Linked DNA regions of Homo sapiens. The protein of the gene in region 2 purifies or fractionates together with the protein of the main gene of each other region. This does not show direct contact. Each region holds a gene or a part of one and is shown on either strand. Other genes may lie near its edges.

What was found.
Region 1: the proteins of ZMYM5 (region 2) and RPS6KA2 purify together in Homo sapiens (affinity purification with mass spectrometry; 2 studies listed by BioGRID and IntAct, with this or other methods). This does not show direct contact.
Region 3: the proteins of ZMYM5 (region 2) and RPS6KA3 purify together in Homo sapiens (affinity purification with mass spectrometry; 2 studies listed by BioGRID and IntAct, with this or other methods). This does not show direct contact.

Annotation. Positions count from the first base shown.
Region 1 is NC_000006.12:166,428,215-166,435,251, forward strand, and holds part of RPS6KA2 (ribosomal protein S6 kinase alpha-2), read right to left. Parts: intron 4,277-7,037; coding exon 4,187-4,276; intron 2,398-4,186; coding exon 2,239-2,397; intron 1-2,238. UniProt on the Homo sapiens protein: Serine/threonine-protein kinase that acts downstream of ERK (MAPK1/ERK2 and MAPK3/ERK1) signaling and mediates mitogenic and stress-induced activation of transcription factors, regulates translation, and mediates cellular proliferation, survival, and differentiation.
Region 2 is NC_000013.11:19,832,650-19,839,649, forward strand, and holds part of ZMYM5 (zinc finger MYM-type protein 5), read right to left. Parts: intron 6,337-7,000; coding exon 6,051-6,336; intron 5,173-6,050; coding exon 5,007-5,172; coding exon of another isoform or gene 4,896-5,006; exon of another isoform or gene 4,815-4,895; intron 3,041-4,814; coding exon 2,828-3,040; intron 1-2,827. UniProt on the Homo sapiens protein: Functions as a transcriptional regulator.
Region 3 is NC_000023.11:20,256,873-20,263,909, forward strand, and holds part of RPS6KA3 (ribosomal protein S6 kinase alpha-3), read right to left. Parts: intron 1-7,037. UniProt on the Homo sapiens protein: Serine/threonine-protein kinase that acts downstream of ERK (MAPK1/ERK2 and MAPK3/ERK1) signaling and mediates mitogenic and stress-induced activation of the transcription factors CREB1, ETV1/ER81 and NR4A1/NUR77, regulates translation through RPS6 and EIF4B phosphorylation, and mediates cellular proliferation, survival, and differentiation by modulating mTOR signaling and repressing pro-apoptotic function of BAD and DAPK1.

The DNA of each region.
Region 1 (7,037 bases), on a different chromosome or scaffold from region 2:
ATTTAATAAATGGTGCTGGGAAAACTGGCTAGCCATATGTAGAAAGCTGAAACTGGATCCCTTCCTTACACCTTATACAAAAATTAATTCAAGATGGATTAAAGACTTAAATGTTAGACCTAAAACCATAAAAACCCTAGAAGAAAACCTAGGCATTACCATTCAGGACATAGGCATGGGCAAGGACTTCATGTCTAAAACACCAAAAGCAATGGCAACAAAAGCCAAAATTGACAAATGGGATCTAATTAAACTAAAGAGCTTCTGCACAGCAAAAGAAACTACCATCAGAGTGAACAGGCAACCTACAAAATGGGAGAAAATTTTCGCAACCTACTCATCTGACAAAGGGCTAATATCCAGAATCTACAATGAACTCAAACAAATTTACAAGAAAAAAAAAAACAACCCCATCAAAAAGTGGGCGAAGGACATGAACAGACACTTCTCAAAAGAAGACATTTATGCAGCCAAAAAACACATGAAAAAATGCTCACCATCACTGGCCATCAGAGAAATGCAAATCAAAACCACAAATCAAAACCACTTTTCATTAAAAAGTTAGGAAACAACAGGTGCTGGAGAGGATGTGGAGAAATAGGAACACTTTTACACTGTTGGTGGGACTGTAAACTAGTTCAACCATTGTGGAAGTCAGTGTGGCGATTCCTCAGGGATCTAGAACTAGAAATACCATTTGACCCAGCCATCCCATTACTGGGTATATACCCAAAGGACTATAAATCATGCTGCTATAAAGACACATGCACACGTATGTTTATTGTGGCACTATTCACAATAGCAAAGACTTGGAACCAACCCAAATGTTCAACAATGATAGACTGGATTAAGAAAATGTGGCACATGTACACCATGGAATACTATGCAGCCATAAAAAATGATGAGTTCATGTCCTTTGTAGGGACATGGATGAAATTGGAGATCATCATTCTCAGTAAACCGTCGCAAGGACAAAAAACCAAACACTGCATGTTCTCACTCATACGTGGGAATTGAACAATGAGAACACATGGACACAGGAAGGGAAACATCATACTCTGGGGACTGTTGTGGGGTGGGGGGAGGGGGGGAGGGATAGCATTAGGAGATATACCTAATGCTAAATGACGAGTTAATGGGTGCAGCACACCAGCATGGCACATGTATACATATGTAACTAACCTGCACATTGTGCACATGTACCTAAAACTTAAAGTATAATAATAATAAAATTAAAAAAAAATTTTTAAATTTGAGACAGAGTTTTGCTCTGTCGCCCACGCTGAAGTGCAGTGGCGTGATCTTGGCTCATTGCAACCTCTGCCTCCCAGGTTGAAGCGATTCTCATGCCTCTGTCTCCTGAGTAGCTGGGATTACAGGTGTGTGCCACCAAGCCTGGCTAATTTTTGTATTTTCAGTAGAGATGGGGTTTTGCCATGTTGGCCAGGCTGGTCTCAAATTCTTGACCTCAGGTGATCCACCTGCATCAGCCTCCCAAAGTGCTGGGATTACACGTATGAGCCACTGCATCCAGCAAAATTATTGTTCTTTTGTTAAAATGCTATATAAGCTCAAGTTCTAACAACTCCTTGGAGTTATTCATGGCTGGGTGCTCCCGTGTGTATGTGAGATGCACATGTTAATAAACTTCTGTTTTTCTCTTGTTAACCTGTCTTTGGCCAGTCTTGTTTATAGGGCCTCCACCGAAGAACTAAGATGGGCAGAGGGAAAAAAGAATTTTTCTTTTCTTTTTTTTTTTTTGAGATGGAGTCTCGTCCTGTCACGCAGGCTGGAGTGCAATGGTGCTATCTCAGCTCACTGCAACCTCCGCCTCCTGGGTTGAAATAATTCTCCTGCCTCAGCCTCCCGAGTAGCTAGGATTGCAGGTGTGTGCCATCATGCCCAGCTAATTTTTTTTTTGTTGTTGTTATTTTTAGTAGAGACAGGGTTTCACCATGTTGGCTAGGCTGGTCGCGAACTCCTGACCTCGTGATCTGCCCGCCTTGGCCTCTCAAAGTGCTGGGATTACAGGTGTGAGCCACTGCACCCGGCTGGGAAGAGAATTTTTCTTCCCTTGCACCGTCACTGAGCCTCCAGACACAAGAGAGACGATGGTGGCACGGAAGGAATTCCAGGACAATCCGCGTTCTCAGCTCTTGAACCCATAAACCCTTGTGGTTTTGGTTCCTGCCCTGAAGCTCCCTCCTCCCCGAAGGCTGCCCCAGGCATGGCTCCTACCCCCTGGGAATGGAGGTAGTCCATGGTCTTGGTGATGGTGCACAGGACGTCACTGGCTTCGCGCTCCGAGAAGTATCTCTGCCGGAGGATGCGGTCCAGGAGCTCCCCACCACGCATCAGCTCCATTACCAGGTACACAAACTTGCCATCATCATAGACCTGCGGAGTGGAGAAGGGGCGCACACGTCACCACGGCTGGTTGCTGTGAAAGAGCAACTACTCCAGAGGGGACAGGAGAGGGAAGTCAGAGGGGAGAGGCTGGGACCACAGGGTCCTATGGGAGTGCAAACAAGGCTTCTGCAGGGTAGAAGCAAATGGCCATTCCTGTCATACCATATGTGCTCTTTTTAGGAAGAAAACGGCTTTAATAATCTGCTGCTAAGCAGGGACTGAGTAAGGACATACAAGATGGGCGTGTCCTTAGCTGAGATGAATGGCTTCATGACTCTGCCAGGAGATATTTGTTATTTATTTATTATTATTATTTTTTGAGATGGAGTCTCGCTCTGTCACCCAGGCTGAAGTGCAGTGGCGCCATCTCAGCTCACTGCAACCTCCAGCTCCTCCTGGGTTCAAGCGATTCTCCTGCCTTAGCCTCCCGAGTAGCTGGGATTATAGGTGCACGTCACCATGCCCAGCTAATTTTTGTATTTTTAGTAGAGACAGGGTTTCACCATGTTGGCCAAGCTGGACTCAAACTCCTGGCCTCAAGTGATCCGCCTGCCTCAGCCTCCCAAAGTGCTGGGATTACAGGCGTGAGCCATAGTGCCTGGCCTGCCAGGAGATATTTAGACGTTAAGAAATGCAAATGTTGGCAAACCACCTTGCAAGAGCAGGGCCTCAAGGCAGTGCTTTTCAAACTGTAACGTGCATCCAATCCAATCTTGGGGATCTTGCTAAAATGCATGTTCTGGTCCTGCAGACTGAGGTGGGGCCTGGCCCTCCGCATTTCTAACCAGTTTCCCATGATGTCTGTGCTGCTACCGCATGGACAGCACTGAGTGGCCAGGCGCTGGGAGCACAGAGAGGCTAGGCAGAGTCCAGGGCGAAGTTACATATCAGAGCCGTGCTGTTGCTTCAGAGAAGCAATAGAAAAAGATAGTTTTCTCCATACTGGCTTTTATCTCATAAACTAAATAAAAACAATATGCTCTGATTATTCTTTTTATGTTTCGATTTTTTGAGATGGAGTCTCTCTCAGTTGCCCAGGCTGGAGTGCAATGGTGTAATCTCGGTTCAGTGCAACCTCCACCTCCCAGGTTCAAGCAATTCTCCTGCCTCAGCCTCCGGAGTAGCTGGGATTACAGGTGTGCGCCACCACACCCGGCTAATTTTGTATTTTTAGTAGAGATGGGGTTTCACCATGTTGACCAGGCTGGTCTCAAAGTGATCTGCCTTCAGGAGACCTCAAGTGATCTGCCTGCCTACGCCTCCCAAAGTGCTGGGATTACAGGTGTGAGCCACCGCACCCGGCCTGTTCGGGCTATTCTTATGCCAAGCTTGCATGTTAAGACCGTTTGCACGCAGCAGTCACTATGCATGAGGGAAACTGAGGTAGGCCCAATATCCTGTGACTCTAGGTTCATAATGCTAGAATCAGTTTGGAGTTGGAGCGTGAGGAGGAAAATTGTCTCCTGTCTGTGCTCCCGGATCCCAAACCCTGCACCCCCATGGGCCTCTATGAGAGACTCCGCCTGTGGACTGTAATTCACACAAGCTCTCTCTTCCTCTGTTTTACTTGCTCCCTCCATGACTGGGGCGGTGGCTGTCAAAAAGACTTGAGTACACAGTCCAGCAAGTCAGCTCCAAGTGACTGAGATATGTGGGTGGTGGAAACCAGCTGAGACAGGCATGAGATGTGAGAAAGCTTGCTCTGAGTGAATGGGAGTTTTGTGTCAGTTGAAGAAACAGAAGGAAGTGGAGATGCTGTTGCACGGGGACCACTCACATCCTTGAGGGTGATGATGTTCGGGTGCTGGCCGTACCGCAGGAGGATCTCAATCTCTTCCGAGGGGTCTCTCTTGCTCTTATCAATGATCTGGAACAAACACAGCACATGGCAGTGAGGGGTCTACTTTAGGCTTTCGGGTGGTATCTGCTGGTGGACCATTGAGTTTGGATAAAGTCTGGCCCCAGGTGGCCCAATCACTACAATCTCACACCCGACCAAGAGATAACCTGAGATTGTCTGGAGATTCATGGCAAGTCCTTTCTTTGACAACTAGTGTAAGATTTACATCTACAAAGAGGAGTACAGGCTGGGCAAGGTGGCTCATGCCTGTAATCCCAGCACTTTGGGAGGCCGGGGTGGGCAGGTGGCTTGAGGTCAGGAGTTTAAGACCAGCCAGCTTGGCTAACATGACAAAACCTGGTCTCTACTAAAAATACAAATATTAGCCAGACATGGTGGTGTGTGCCTGTAATCCCAGCTACTCAGGAGGCTGAGGCATGAGAATCACTTGAACCTGGGAGGCAGAGGTTGCAGGGAGCTGAGATAATGCCACTGCACTCCAGCCTGGGTGACAGAGCGAGACTCTGTCTCAAAAAAAAAAAAAAAAAAGGAGTACAAGACTTCAGACATGAATTTTAAGGTGTTATAAGGTTGGGTGGAGACACGTGTAGGGAGCTCATGCAAGTGCCACCAAATAACAGACTGTGTCCCACCCTCGCAGTGGGCACCATCCACAACAAGCCTCCAGCCACTGTGCACCTTCTGCCTTGTTCCGGGAATTACAAACCAGCCACAAAATGAGGTGAGGCGCATGGCTCTCACCAAGAGATGCTGGGGATGGTGCGCAGGCCAGACCTGCCTTGCTGTTTAGACATATGCAAGCTCCCCTCCCCCGCCCAGCATCTGTATCCGATGTCTTAGGATAACAGATAAAGTTGCTTCAACCCCATGGAGACATATGGTTTCTGAGGACAGGGTGTTGGGATTTAAGCCTACCTTGGAAACAGGAAGTCGCTGTTGGTCCCTGGTGGCTAATCCCTCTGGAGGTGCCTAAGTCCCGCCCTTGCCGCCCCTGCTGTGGGGACGGGACCAGTGGGAGGAGGGCACCACACTCATGGGAAATTGGCAACATGCAACATGTATTTTGCAAACAACACTCAGAGCAGAAGAAAAGCGATTGGAAACACCTTCCTAACCATGATTTGTACTATTCTCACATTAGTTCAACCTAATTTTAAAATAGTCTCTATTTGGAGACCGTGCAGTCATTTTACTACTAGAATATGAGGGTGACTTGCTTTTAACTTCTATCATGTCAAAGTCTCTAGGCAGAGCTTTGCATAAAACTCTATTTCGTTAATTTTTTTTGGAGACAGGGTCTCACTCTGTTGCCTAGGTTGGAATACAGTGGTACAAGCATAGTTCACTGCAACATCAAACCCCTGGGCTCAAGTGATCCTCCTGCCTCAGCCTCCAGAATAACTAGGACTACAGAGGTGTGTGCCACCCTACTCAGCTAATTTTTAAATTCTTTGTAGAGATGATGGGGTCTTGCTGTGTTGCCCAGGCTGGTCTCTAACTCCTGGCTTCAAGTGATCCTCCTGCCTCAGCCTCCCAAAGTGCTGAGATTACAGGCATGAGCAACTACACCTGGCTATTTCTTTACTTTAGAGAACCAAACGCTTGGGTAGCATTTGACTCACTGCTCATAATCTGTCCCCTGGTCACCCTTCGTCCACTCCCCGTCACCGTTATAAAAACTCACCATAGTGCCAGTTCTCACCCCATTATAGTTTCAAAGGATGCTCTGCCACGGCCACCATTCAGCTGTGACTGCATCAGTGGCCCATGATCTGTGAGTCCTAATAGCCTGCGTTGTAAACAGGCAGAAGAGTTAGGGTCCCTTTCTGGACATAGAATTTCTCTCCTTCTGCTGCATTTAATTCTACTGAAGTTTTAGCTAGGACACTAGGACTAATTCTATTGCCAACATAAATGCATCATTCTCAAGTAGAGACTTTTAAAACGATCATTCAAGGAGGGGTGGGGGACTTTCCCTAACATGCCACAGCCTAAGCAGGTCCTGGGAGGCTGGTCCTGCACTGCTTGTAGGGAAGCTGGCTGTCAGGTACCCAAACTCCTCTGCTCCTGTCTGCCTGTGGGCATCCCGTCTATCGGGGCCGGGATCCTGTCTTTGCAATTAGAGAAGGTTAAAATACATTTATAAATTTATAAAAGAATTCAGTAGAAGATTTTTTCGCAAATATGATTTCATGATAAAGGGATGTGTTCTTAGCATGAATCTGTTTTATCACTCTCACAGTGGAACAAGATGCAGAGTAAACAAGAAAGTGGGAGCTTTTTCTCCACCGCCACGGACCATCTTCAAGATACAAGGAGTAAAAAAGGCCGACGCGAGCAGGTGCATCCTACGCCATCCCTTGTTTTAAAAATGGAGAGAAGAATGCAGATAGACGCATCCATTTCCTTGTGGGTGCATAAAATAACCCTGGAAGGAAGGAGGAAACATTTAATTGCCTTGCCTTCCTGTGAGGAGGGGAACAGGGTGCCTGGGGGCCCATGGGTGGGAGGGAAACTTTGCTGTATCCACATGAATTTTTAAAAATTTTGAACCACAAGAATATATTGTCTATTCAAAATATGAAATAAAGAATTCCAAAATTTCAGCTTACTATTTTGTAAGCTGAAATTGCAGGACAACGTGACTATTATTTTAAAGAATCTGGGACTACAGATGGCTGCCCTCTCAACCCTAGTATCTATTTTATTTCTATGTGTTCTTTTGTTGTGAGTCTTCAGAAAAATTCTGACTTACAATGATAAGTAT
Region 2 (7,000 bases):
AAAGGCTTGGAAAATATTAAGACTTAATATAGTTTTTATTTCCAAATTAGAAGGTCAGTAGGTTACTTTTGTCATGTAACTGTCTTTGAAAAGACAATTTAACAATATTAAGTCTTTTTAAATTTCGTTTTGTTAAAGATAGTCTCATTCTGTTGCCCAGGGTGGAGTGTAATGGTGCAATCATAGCTCACTCACCTCAGTCTCCTGAGGAGCTAGAACTACGAGTGTACAACCACCATATCTGGCTAATTAAAAAAATTGTTTTGTAGAGATGGGGTCTTACTATGTTGCCCACGTTGGTCTCCAACTCCTGGACTAGTGCCATCCTCCCATCTTGGCCTCCCAAAGTGCTAGGATTACAGGCACGTACCACCGTGCCTGGACCTTTCTATTTGTTAATGTTCATTGTGTTCTTCTATAAACCAAAAGCTTTCTTAAATATTAGGTGCAATATATGTAAAGAAAAAATAATTTAACATAAATAAGGTTTTCTTGCAAAAATAAACAGAAAAGTCAACTATGGGTATCCACTGTTTCTCCTGTTCGATAAAAGCCTAGCAATTCAGGGTTACTTTCCCTTGAAGCTAACCAATTAAATTCTCATCCAGTGAAATGGGGGTTAAGAATATTTCCAGTTTTACATTATGATCTATCTTAATTTTTGTGTATGCAATGAAAAGGGGTCAAGGCTCATTTATTTCCACACAAACAAAAAATTATTTCAGCATAATTTGTTAAAAAATCTTGTTTTTCCCATCAGAATAATTTGGTACCTTCTTGAAAAATCTACTATGTGGTTCTATTTCTGGACTATCTTCTATTTCACTGATCTCTGTTAGCCCATTTGTTTATATACCAAACCATACTGCCTTGATTATTGCAGCATTTTAATGTCTTAAAGTCAGGAAGTTGATAATTCTTTAACCCACATCTAACACCATATACAAAATTAATTCAAAATGAATCACAGGCCTAAAAAATAAAAGCTAAAACTGAAAAGATTCTAGAAGGAAATGTAGGAAAATATCTTTGTAATTTTGGTGGGCAAAGATTCCTTAAATACACAAAAACTATTAATCACAAGAGAAGCAAATAATAAATAGGACTTATAAAAATTAAAATCTTGTACTTTTCAAAAGTAATATTAGGAAAACAAAACAAAACATTAAGAAAATGAAAAGACAAATCAGTCTGAAAGAAAATCTTCCGGCCAGGCACAATGGCTCATGCCTATAATCCCAGTACTTTGGGAAGCTGAGGTGGGAGTACTGCTTGAACCCAGGAGTTCGAGACCAGCCTGGGCAACATATTGAGACCCACCTGTATTTCCTTTTTCTTTTTTTTGAGACAGAGCGTTGCTCTTGCTGCCCAGGCTGGAGCGCAATGGCGCAATCTCCGCTCACTGCAACCTCCACCTCCCAGGTTCAAGCGATTCTCCTGCCTCAGCCTCCAGAGTAGCTGGGATTACAGGTGCCAGCCACCATGCCCGGCTTATTTTTTTTGTATTTAGTAGAGACGGGGTTTCGCCACGTTGGTCAGGCTGGTCTCCAACTCCTGACCTTAGGTGATCCATCCGCCTTGGCCTCCCAAAGTGCTGGGATTACAGGCGTGAGCCACCACGTCCAGCCTATTTTTTCTTTTAAAAAAAAAACAGAAGAAAAAAAATTTTTTTCCAAATATATTTATTTTATAAAATACATGTATCCAGAATAATACCAAGGACTCCTACAACTCAGTAACAAAAAGAATTCAATAAAAAATGGGCTGAAGACCTGATAGACAAAACAGACAACTACCACATTTTAATTTTTTTTTTTTTGTAGAGACAGGGTCTGGCTATGTTGACCAGGCCGGTCTTGAACTCCTGGCCTCAGCTGATTCTCCCACCTGGGCCTCCCAAAGTGCAGGGATTACAGGCGTGAAGCACCTCACCTGGCTCCAAATTTTGGTCAGAATGTAGAGCAACTAGAATTATCAAGTGCTTAGTGGGAGTGCTAAATGGTACAGAAGAAAAATTAGTCTTTTAAATTCATCCAGGAGTAACCTTTTTCTTTTTTTTGAGACAGAGTCTTGCTCTGTCACCCCGGCTGGAATGCAGTGGCATGATCTCGGGTTTGCAACCTCTGCCTACCAGGTTCAAGTGATTCCTATGCCTCAGCTTCCCAAGTAGCTGGGATTACAGGCACACACCAACTCGCCTGGCTAATTTTTGTATTTTTAGTAGACAGGGGGTTTTGTCATGTTGCCCAGTCTGGTTTCAAAATCCTGGCCCCAAGTGATCTGCCTGCCTTGGCCAAAGTGCTGGGATTACAAGTGTTAGCCACTGTGCCTGATCATTTTCTTTCTTTTTTTTTTTTTTTGAGACAGGCTTTCGCTCTGTTGCCTAGTTGGAGTGCAGTGGTACAATCATAGTTCACTGTAGCCTCAATCTCCCAGGTTCAAGCAATACTTACACCTCAGCTTCCAAAGTAGCTGAGACTACAGGCACATGCCATCATGCCTGCGGCTAATTCTAAAAAATTTTTAGTAGAGATTACGTCTCACTATGCTGCCCAGGATGGTCTCAAGCTCCTGAGCTCAAGCAATCCTCCCACCTCAGCCTCCCAAAATGATGGAATTACACAAGTGAGTCACTGCACCCAGCCCAAAGAAAATTTTTAAAACAAGCTTACAACAATCTTAGACTTGAATATTTGAGATGGGACAAACCAATGACAGAATGGCAAAATGGAATTAAATGAGATTCTAAGATAAATCCGGTTCATGTAAGATGTAAGGGTGAAGCTACTATATATTTGATCATTTAAAGCTCATGAAAAAGAATTACCTGTTTATATTCGTTAATACAACTTTGGCAGCAAAATCTCTTCTGCTGACCTCCAATCACCAGGATGTTGTTTCCAGTACTCTTACTAGGCATGTACTCTCCACAGTGTTCACAGCAGTTCATTATTAGACCATTGGCCAATCTGTACTTATTAAAGCAATGGTTACTGCACAGTTTATGTGTTACATTATTTACGCTGACTTCATGGCGAATCTAAAAGAAAAACCAGAATTCATTAACTAAGATATATGAACCAGATTAGCATAGCAAGCAATGAGATAACTAGTTTCTGCAATAGAAGCAAAGAATCCCTAATCATATCTCAGAGGAAGATATACCCAGGGAAAAGATTTTTTTTTTTTTCTGAGATAGAGTCTCACTCTGTCACTCAGGCTGGAGTGCAGTGGCACAATCTCGGCTCACTGCAACCTCTGCCTCCCATGTTCAAGCGATTCTCCTGCCTCAGCCTCCCAAGTAGCTGGGATTACAGGCGCCCGCCACCACGCCCAGCTAATTTTTTTATTTTTAGTAGAGACGGGGTTTCACCACGTTGGCCAGGCTGGTATCGAACTCCTGACCTCAAGTGATCTGCCCGCCTTGGCCTCCCAACATGCTGGGATTACAGGCATGAGCCACCATGCCTAGCTGGGAAAAGATTTTTAAAAAGCATATTTTATTTTTTCCTTTATTTGTAAGATCACTTTGATTTCACAAAAGAGGACAAGATTCATAGGAAAGCAATAAAATCAATAATAACTTCCCTAAAGACATTTAATAACAACAGATAATGAACTTTTTTTTTTTTTTTGAGACAAGTTTTTGCTATGTTGCCCTGGGCTCGAATTCCTGGTCTCAAGCAAGCCCTCTACTCATGCCTCCTGAATAGCCCAGATTACAGGCTTGCAGCACCACACCTGACTTTGGTTTAGAAGATTTTGACATGACCCGCTTAAAGGAAATGGGTCAACAATCTTTTTTTTTCTTTTGATAGTGTCTCTTGCTTTATCACCCTGGCTGGAAAGCAGTGGTACAATCATAGCTCACTCCACCTCAAACTCCTGGACTCCAGTGATTGTCCTGTCTCAGCCTCCTAAGCAGTTGGGATTATATGTATGAGTCACTCATCAACAAGGATCAACAATTTTTAGATGGTATTGTAAGTAAAGTTCACTGCCCTAGAACATTTGTGGAGGGAGCTAAGGGAATCAATATTATCTGTATTCAGGATCGTGTCTGTATAACCAGAAGCAGGGTAGTTCTCACTGTGGTAACTGAGATAAAATCATGTTCTTGATATGCATGACTCAGGGGTAACCAACACCAAATTTAGTTACCAAAGACTTTTATAAAGTGAGGACTGCCTGCATGCATGTTTCTTCTCTTCTAGGAAATGGGAAGATTGCAATATCACTGAATGTTAAGCAAACAGCATACATTCACTCCACTTGTTCCATGTGTTCTTGTACCGGGATCTGCTGCTTTCTAATTTTAACTTTTAGATTCAGGGAATACATGTGCAGGTTTGTTAGATGGGTATGTTGTTTTTTGTTTTTTTTTTTTTCTTTCTTTTTTTGAGACAGAGTCTTGCTCTATCACCCAGGCTGGAGTACAGTGGCGCAATCTCAGCTCACTGCAGCCTCCGCCTCCCTGGTTCAAGCGATTCTCCTGCCTCAGCCTCCCAAGTAGCTTGCGCCACCACACCCAGCTAATTTTTGTATTTTTAGTAGAGATTGGGTTTCACCCTGTTGGCCAGGTTGGTCTCGAACTCCTGACTTCAAGATATCCACCTGCCTCGGCCTCCCAAAGTGCTGGGATTACAGATGTGAGCCACCACGTCCGGCCCCAAGGGGTAGTTTTCCAGCCCTTGACCCCCAACTCTTGAGACTACATTTTTATTTAATGTCATCAGTAATAACAAAATCCACCATAAAACAATTGCCTTGTTTATGAGCACAACAATTCCATAGAAACAGATGTGTACTTTCCATGCTATGCAAATGGAATTTTATTTATAAAATATCCCATAAGATAGTTCTAACATATCCTTATTCTTCCTTTCAGCTTCATGTTATACATCCAGAACACGTGCATTATGTAGATGAAAGAGTACATAATAGCACTTAAAAGTTAAAATTATCACTGTTAGCCTAAACAACAACTTAGGTATAAAAATCCAGACCTCTGCTAATTTACTACAAATTGTACATCTTGACTTATTAAAAACTCCTTTTTTAAGATTCCAGTTGTTTTCACAGGGAGACAAACAAGATGTACTATAAAATTCTTGGAAGGATTTGCTTGATTCTACTGGAAGAATGACATTAGCCTTCTTTGTAGATGCATCTCTGAAACAGAAGGGATAGACACATAATTTAAGAACACTGAATTTTAATACAAGTCAAATATATTAATAATAATTGCCATTTTTCATTTTCTTATGATTTAATACTAGAAATCAAGTATAACTTTTAGATGCAGCAAATCCACTTTTGGCTTTATTGCCAAGAGTTCTTAAATGATACAGAAAGAGAAGAGTCAGAGATAAAAATCTTTCGTAGCACAAGAACCTTGCCACAAGTTTTTAAGATTTTTAGATGCATTCAAAAATGCTGGTAATAGGCTGGGCACAGTAGCTCACACCTGTAATTCCAGCACTTTGGGAGGCTGAAGTGGGCAGATCACTTGAGGTCAGGAGTTCGAGACCAGCCTGGCCAAAATGATGAAACCCTGTCTCTACTAAAAATACAAAAAATTAGCTGGGCGTGGTGGCGCGCACCTGTAATCCCAGCTACTCGGGAGGCTGAGGCAGGAGAATCGCTTGAACCTGGGAGGTGGAAGTTGCAGTGAGTGGAAATCGTGCCACTGCACTCCAGCCTGGGCAACAGAGTGAGACTCCGTCTCAAAAACAAACCAACAAACCAAAATGCTGGTAATAAATTCATAGAACTAAGGTGTTAAGATGGGGGAGCAGGGGAGGCAAATGTAGTAGCAGGGAGAGGGGCAATTGATTTCCAAACCTATGTTCCATTTTTCTGCCGAGAGTAAATACAGCACATACGAGTCCACAGCTTGGATATATTCTAGGAGCTCAAGCTCAATAAACTTGAAGACACTCCTGCAACAATTCTACCCATAAATCTATCCAGCTCTGCAGTTATATTGAGTACTTATTTATACCATTAGTATTCAACTATGTGGAGAAATGTTGAAAGGTACTGCTTACTTTTTACATATTATGCTTCGTGTGTTTTGAGTACGTTTATGAGAGAAGGAAGAAAGGCAGGTGGTAGAGCAAAAGAGGTGAGCTGATCCTTTTCGTTGATAAGCTGTCTGTCCCTTCTGTAAAGGCTTTTTGCAATTTGCACAAGTGATTTTAGCTGGTTTAGTAAGTTGTTGTTGGGCTGTAGGCTGGAAATTCTGCTTACGAAGTAAGGCCACTGGTGATAAAGAATCCACCCCTGGCTGTTTCTGATTACTGGGAAATGAAGCTGACTGGGAGATCCAAGAATCTTAAAAATGAAACAAGAAAAAAATCATGGAACAAATCAAAATGTACATCAGAAAAATAACTTGCATTTTCATTTAAGAGTTTAAGAGACAAGTGGGGCAGGCGTATAAACATGTGGTTAAGGCCAAACACTCTTGATGCACAATCCCAGGGGGACTATCCACTTTGTATCTCAAGTGAATGATACTCCACTGTGCCAACAATAATAATAAAGTAAATGTTGGCGTCTGGAATTGTGTAATGTGGTAGCCATCGGCTCTTAAGTCAGACTCCAGGTTCAAAGATCTCCTGAATGTAATATTATACAAATATACTAATTGATGATACCTAACTCATCAGAGTGCTATGAAGAACACATGACATAAAAGTAATGCCTGGCACACAGGCACACTCAAAAAATATTAGCTACTTTTTTTTTTTTTGAGACAGAATCTCGCTCTTTCTCCCAGACCGGAGTGCAATGGCACAATCTCGGTTCACTGCTACCTCTGCCCCCCAGGTTCAAGCGATTTTCCTGCCTCAGCCTCCCGAGTAGCTGGGATTACCCAGCTAAATTTTTTTTTCTATTTTTAGTAGAGAGGGTGTTTCACTATGTTGGCCAGGCTGGTCACGGACTCCTGGCCTCAAGTAATCCACCTGCCTCAGCCTCCCAAAGTGCTGGCATT
Region 3 (7,037 bases), on a different chromosome or scaffold from region 2:
ATTCTCTACATCTCCACAATAGCTACCCATGTAAACTACCTGGAACCTTTTTCCCCTGTAGCAGATTTCATTTAGACTGAGTCACTCACCTGGATGTTCTCAACTCAAACAGGGCTGTGTAGTGAAAAGTCATTAGAATTTGCAATCTGTGAGACTTGGGTTTGAATTCTGGCTCCTTCAGTTACTAGCTGGGCAACCATGAGCACGTTATTTAACCCTTCTAGGCTTCAGTTTCCTCATCTGTAAGTTGAGGATAATTCTGTATACTTCATTCAAGTTGATATACACAAAGTGACTTGTCAAGGGGGGCACTCAATAGACGTGAGCTTCCTTCCATCTTCACTTGGGAAAGAAAGAGCAGTGATCTTAACGTACCCCTCACCCTTGGTTTGTAGGTAGGAACATTCTGAAGTTGTTTTTGTAAACTAAGGACTGTATTTTCCAGACTTACGAGTTAAAATTAGCAGAGAGTAGAGAAAAAGTAATATTTGAACTTTTGTGCATTGTGGCTCTTTCAGAATTTGTATTTAAGATAGTTTACATAAAATTAAAGAGTTGTATTGATATGATGTGGATGACAAAATGAATTTTAGTGAAATAAATGTGCTGCACACGCCAACTCTGACTTTGTTAACATATCACCTGCAGCAGGTCTGCCTGAACAGGTCTCAATTTTCTTACATAAATAGGGTAGGGCTAAGTTGTTCTCTAAAATTATATGCTAAAAAAATTTAAATGCTTTCATATTTCAAAATGCACCAATCCACTTTTTCCGTTTTAACTAGCACAGTACAGTGAATGCAACACAATATTTAAACAAATTACCATACAGTAATTTATTTATCCAATAATATAGAAGATAATTGTATATTTTTCTCCCCAGAGACATTAGTCTTACTGTTTATGTCTCGGTCTGTAAGCTCGGTGCACAAGAGGAAACTTGTAATTACAACATTTTTTGATATTTAAATTTGCCCCAATGCTTTAGTGTTATCACTTGAATGAGATGTCACAGTAAAACTATTAAAGCTGTAGGAAGAGTAGAATGGTGATTTGTGGGGTATGTACCACCCTAGAGGGTTTATCAGAATCTTCAGGGTAGAAAAGGACAAAACTAACCTGATTAAACATAATTTGAAAAAGCATGTTAAATATTTGTTTTTAGAAAAGGTTTAGCCTATTAATTTCAAGATACAAATCATACAAGGTAGAAATGAAAAAACACTGGTGTAAAAAATGCATTCAATTTGTACTAATCCTGTAATCTGGAATTGTACTGTTCAACATGGTAGCCAATAGCCACTGGTGACTATTAGATAAAATTTAAAAGTTCACTTCCACACTAGCCACATTTCAAGTGCTCAACAGCCACATATAGATAGCAGCTACTGTACTAAACAGTGCTGATCCAGAAATTTTTTGTGATTTTAAGTAAATCTTTATTATTTTACATTATTTTCAGATAGATGCCTCTGTTCCTAAATGTGAAGAAATGAAGTAACATTCTAGGTAGCTGAGATTTTTGCCACAGGTTTTACAAGATTTCTGGAGTGAAGATTTATCCCAAACCACTGCACTTGAGATGCATTTCAATCTATTAATGTCAAAATGATCTTTTGCTTCAGGCTATCATTTGACATCTGCTTCTAACACATATCAAATGACTGAACCAAGTTTCCTAGGACAAGCTTTGTGGCCCAAAGAATTAGAGACAAGCTCACAGAAATCTAAATGACCAGGTCAGATTTGAAGATGAGATTATCACCATATGTAAGATTATAAAAATCAATTTATATGGTGGACAAAACAAGTTTTTAAGTTATATAAGAGACCATGGATATATTAGTTAAGATGGGAAAATTCGATTTAACTTATGGTTGTAATTCTACTATGACAAGAAATCTAAAAGTGCTTTTAGATTTACACCTACGTGTAGAGTAACAAATATTTAGGAAACTAGCACTACTTTATGAGAACAACAGAAAAGGACTCACAATGTGGAGATGTGACTCCAGGCAGGGCAGTAGGCTAGCTTTCAATTTAAAGCTGCCTGTTTTTTAGTTCATTCATGTTCTACTTTCTAGCTGACATCTTCAAGAGAGGAAGGTAAATATGCAGGGCAGGTAATGTCAGCAATTGAGCCATTCTGTTATGGTATGTAAAACATAAAATCACTATTTATTATTTGGTAATATGCCCAGCAAATACCCCTGACCCCAGAGGTATTTGTACATGATGAGCAGAGACCAGAAAAAGAGTGAGGATGCTATTTTACATTATTTGGAAACTGTAACTTTTTTATATTACTAATCCTAGCTATCTATTCTCTAGTAAGTGAAAACAAGAAGCAATTAATTTAAACAGGAAAATGGGAGAGAAAAGCAGATTAACAGTGGCATAAAGTGGCATATAAGAGAATTTTTAAACTACAAATATTAGACATAAGTTACAGAAACAGTCAAGGTACAGGCCATTTAGTAGGGGCAATTAGCTTGATATTAAGTAGAATATGACCATTAATTTTCAGAACAGTGAATCAAAAGTGTAAATTATTTTTAACTTTTATTTAAATTATTATTAAATTTATATTCACTATTAAGACGGAACATTTTTATACAATTTAATTTAGAAAGATTTCAATTCAAAATGAAACAAAACTCTTGACAGTTAAAGAAAACACTTCAATATAGTCAATTAAACATAACAGCTCATTTCCAGGCAATACTGGATCGCGTTACTGTAGTTATCAGACTTTCCAAAACTGTGTTCTGCAAAGCACTTTGTGTCCACTGAGACTTCAATAGATGGTTTACAAAAAAGGGGTTCTGACATCAAGTCTCAAATGCCGTGGGCCATATCCATTTTGCAGATTCATTGTATACAACATCTTAAAAGTTCTAAATTATACAGTAAAGACAGGTTAAATCTTATTTAATGCCACATTTCCCCAACTTACTTGATTATGCCACACTACCTTATTTTTTGGAGGGGGGTGATTCTTGAGGCATGGATACACCTTTTAACATCATATCTCCAGAGACTTTTCGGCTTGAAAAATACTATATATACTATTTAGAGTTCTGTAAGAACCAACACCACATTACAGACAAAATCTAAAGGATTACATTTCTAGACAGGAAAACCCAGTTACCCTATGGCATTTCGAAATAACTAAAACAAATGTATTTATAGTAATGGGGAAGGAGGTGTGACATATTAATTTCCTTCCCTAAAAATTAACAGAACGGATTCATCCTAAAATATAAAAAGGTGTGCACATTTTGTGTTGGTATGTTTTAGAAAGAAAGTTAAAATTCTACCTATTGATGCTATAAACTGACTTTAACCATTTCTTCAGGGACACATTATCTTCAAGAGGTAGACATACAGAATACACTATATTTCATTGATTAAAAGATACAATCAAGTGTAAGATACACTATTATTTTATATATTGTTAAGGAAAAACATGCTGCTAATTAAACTATGACATCCCATGGACTGTGAGACATCTTCCAATTTGAGCAATGTTAAAAATGTGAACAAACTTTCCTTTCTTCCTTCTTCCACATATATTCTTCACAATGTTGTTTTTTCCCTTTAAAGACAATACTGAGGAAGGGATCAATGCAAAAAGGGTAAGATTAAAGAGATTTCTGTTCCCCTTGCCCTTTCAATTACGTTCAGATATTACCATGACTATTTAAACTGATCAATCAAATAAATCACTTTTAATTGCTTTGCTGGATTCTAAAAAATTACCCCAGAGGAAAAACAAAGAACTGAGACAGTTCTTTAAGAGGGATGATTCATTGTAACTATTGTTTATTAAAAACTTAAACCATGTACTGAACCAAGTACTTTACATATATTATCATTTCATTTAATTCTCACCAAAACTCTATGAGGTAGACATTATTTTCATCCCTATTTTACAAATTAGGATGTTGAAGTATAGAGATATTAAATATAACTTGCATAGGGTTACAAAGTTATTAAGTGGCAGAGCCAGGACTCAAACACAGGTCTTTATGGCTCCAGAGCTTATGTTCTTTAACACTTTGCTATTAATCCAAATAACCCCACAAAGTCCCTTCTAAGTTTTAAGAATGAGCAAAAACCAAATTACTTAATTACTAGTAACTAATGTATTTGCTTAAAATAGGTCACATGACAAAAAGACAAATACTGCATGTTCTTACTCACACGTGGGACTCATAGGTAGGGAGTTTCTACTCAGAATGAGAGTTACTAGAGGATAGGACGAGTGTGGGGGTTACAGAGGGGGTGGGGGTGAAGAAAGGTTGGTTAATGGGCACAGTACATACAATTGGATAGAAGGAATAAGTTCTAACAATGGATAGCAGAGTAGAGTAGGGTGACTATAGTTAATAACAATGTTTTATATATTTCAGAATAGTTAAAAGAGAGGATTTGAAATGTTCCCAACACACAGAAATGATTAATGGATATCCCAAATACCCTGATGTGATCATTACACATTCTATGCATGGAACAAAATATCACATGACCCCATAAAAATGTACAAATATTATTTATCAATTGAAAAGTAAACATTTTGGTGTGCCAAAGTTTATCTTTCAACAGTTTGTTTAACCAAAGAGACAACTTCCTCCTATGTTTCTGTACATTAGGGATTAATAAATATTGGCTTTTAAATTGTACAACTTGATAAACTGTCAAAAAATAAATAGGCCAAATGTATTAAAATAATCATAATGTGCTATATGGATACATTTTATCCTGAACCTGTTTTATAAAACACATACACACACAGACACACACACATTTGCGTTTGTTTTGCTAAATCATGACAAAACTTAATGATTAAATATGGTAGTTTTTACTGAACGATTAAATAGGGTAGTTTTTCTTTGTTTTAATGCTTTTTGGTGTTTAACTGATAAACTAGAATATCTGAGATCTGATATCTCCAGGTTAATGATACAGGTCACTGTATTAATTCCAAAAGAACACACTGATGGGAGTGGGGTGGAAGGAAGACATTGAATGCTAGGTATTACAATTTAGATACTTGTTTTTTTCTATTTATGTGAATTGGGGAACGGGATGTATAATATATGTACTTGCACAGCTGCATTTCAATGCTTTAAAATGTGTTATCCACCAAAGCACATAAACAACTGAGCACTATCACACGCAGGCATTACCAGTGAGACCACCACCATGTCAGTGTGTCATTCATTATAATCTGAACCGTTGGGTCTAAAGCACCCATTCTGCACTGGGTCAACCAGGCAAGTGTGACCTTACCCATCATTCACAGCCTGGCAGATCACATGTCCCTGAGCATTGAACTGTAGAGCAAATCTTGTTAATTATCACAATGGTATGAATTTCTTAGTAATAAAAATTTTTAAAAACTTTAGGACAATTGTTCTGCAACTCAGACTTCTAGATAAGTGATCTGTATTTTTGGTCATTCTATAATTTAGCAAATGTCAAGTCCTTGGTCAGGAGTACACAGTCCAATTATGCCACCTGTCTTATTAAAAATAAGATATACTTATTGTGGTTTCCAGAAATGTATACTAAAGAGAAGACAAAGTCTGCCTATATTTGCTCCTGCAATTAGATAAAAGTTTTATTAATAAAATTTAAATGCATCCAGCAAGTTTCACATTTTGAATCTACCCCATTACTACAGGATCAAGCTGCCAAAATAAAGCAAAGTTTTCTAGATTTTACAAAACTGACATCCTCTATCATAATCACTGAAAACAATGAAGTGTTCAGTAATGGGTCACAGTTACTTGACAGTTGACATGTAACAATACCTGTCCTCTCCTCAGATCTTCACTTAGGGGAAAGAAAAAAACCTGAAAGGTGGTAAAAATAAAACAGGAAAAGGAAAAGAAACAATAAAACATTTTTTTTCAAAATCAATGATTATACTTTAATAGAGCATTTTCCCTATAGATAAAATAAGAAACCTATATAATATTGATATAGTAGAAATACTATAAAATCTATGTACTATACTATAGAATACTACATAATCTTTGAGGTTAAAAATGGCTGCACATTCACTAAACATGATCTCCCACACAAAGGCCTCATTTTCTATAATAAAATACTTATATAGTTGATTTTTTAAATATTTTTCAGTGCATCATGGGTACCTGTTATTTAAAGGAAGTCGAGGTAGCTATTTTCATACAACACATTGTTTAATACACATTGTATACAACACATTATATTGTGGCTATTTTATATAACACATTTCTATAAAACAAAAATAACCTCCATAATTTTATCATTTTGAAAACTTCATATTTAGATTTACTATCATTTATACCTACTCTATTGCAGTGGAGAAAAAAGTATCACTCTAGGTCAGGCTTATGATCCACTAAATGCTGTCTCTGACAGCACTGGCAAAGAATTTGTACAACAGAAGAGCCATAATTCCTACCTATCCATCCTCTAAACAGTCAAATATTCAAAAGCATATTAGCATCTTTAAGTAACTCACTAAAGAGTTCACCTAGACCAGTTAGGAAGCTAGTTTGTTTTTTATCTTGTACCAACCCTTACTTTGCTTACATAGTACTTCCTTTATTATCCTAAATTTGCTTCTTTAAACATTTGGCCTAGTTCTAGCCTATCATGTTCTGACCCACGTTTGAGTTTAACCACAAGGGTTTTTTTGTTTTGAACACCATGAGATTCGTGTGAGGTCTTAAAGCAGGAAGGCCAGTGTAAAGGAACTGAAGAAACTGCCTGTGTTTTTACTGAGGCACTGAGGTCTTTTTAAATTGTTCATATTTTAATGAGATTAAAATGATAAAAAACAGATAAGATTCATAATCATCCTATTCCTGACTTTCATGATTCATTCAGCAGATATTTATTAAGTCCACAATATGTCAGGGCCAGGCATTGTGCTGAATGCTGAGGATTCAGAGAGGGGGGGAAAAATGTCTGCTTTCAAGAATTCACAGTGTACTAGGGATGAGACCATAAATGTAAACTCCTACACAGACCAATCCTGA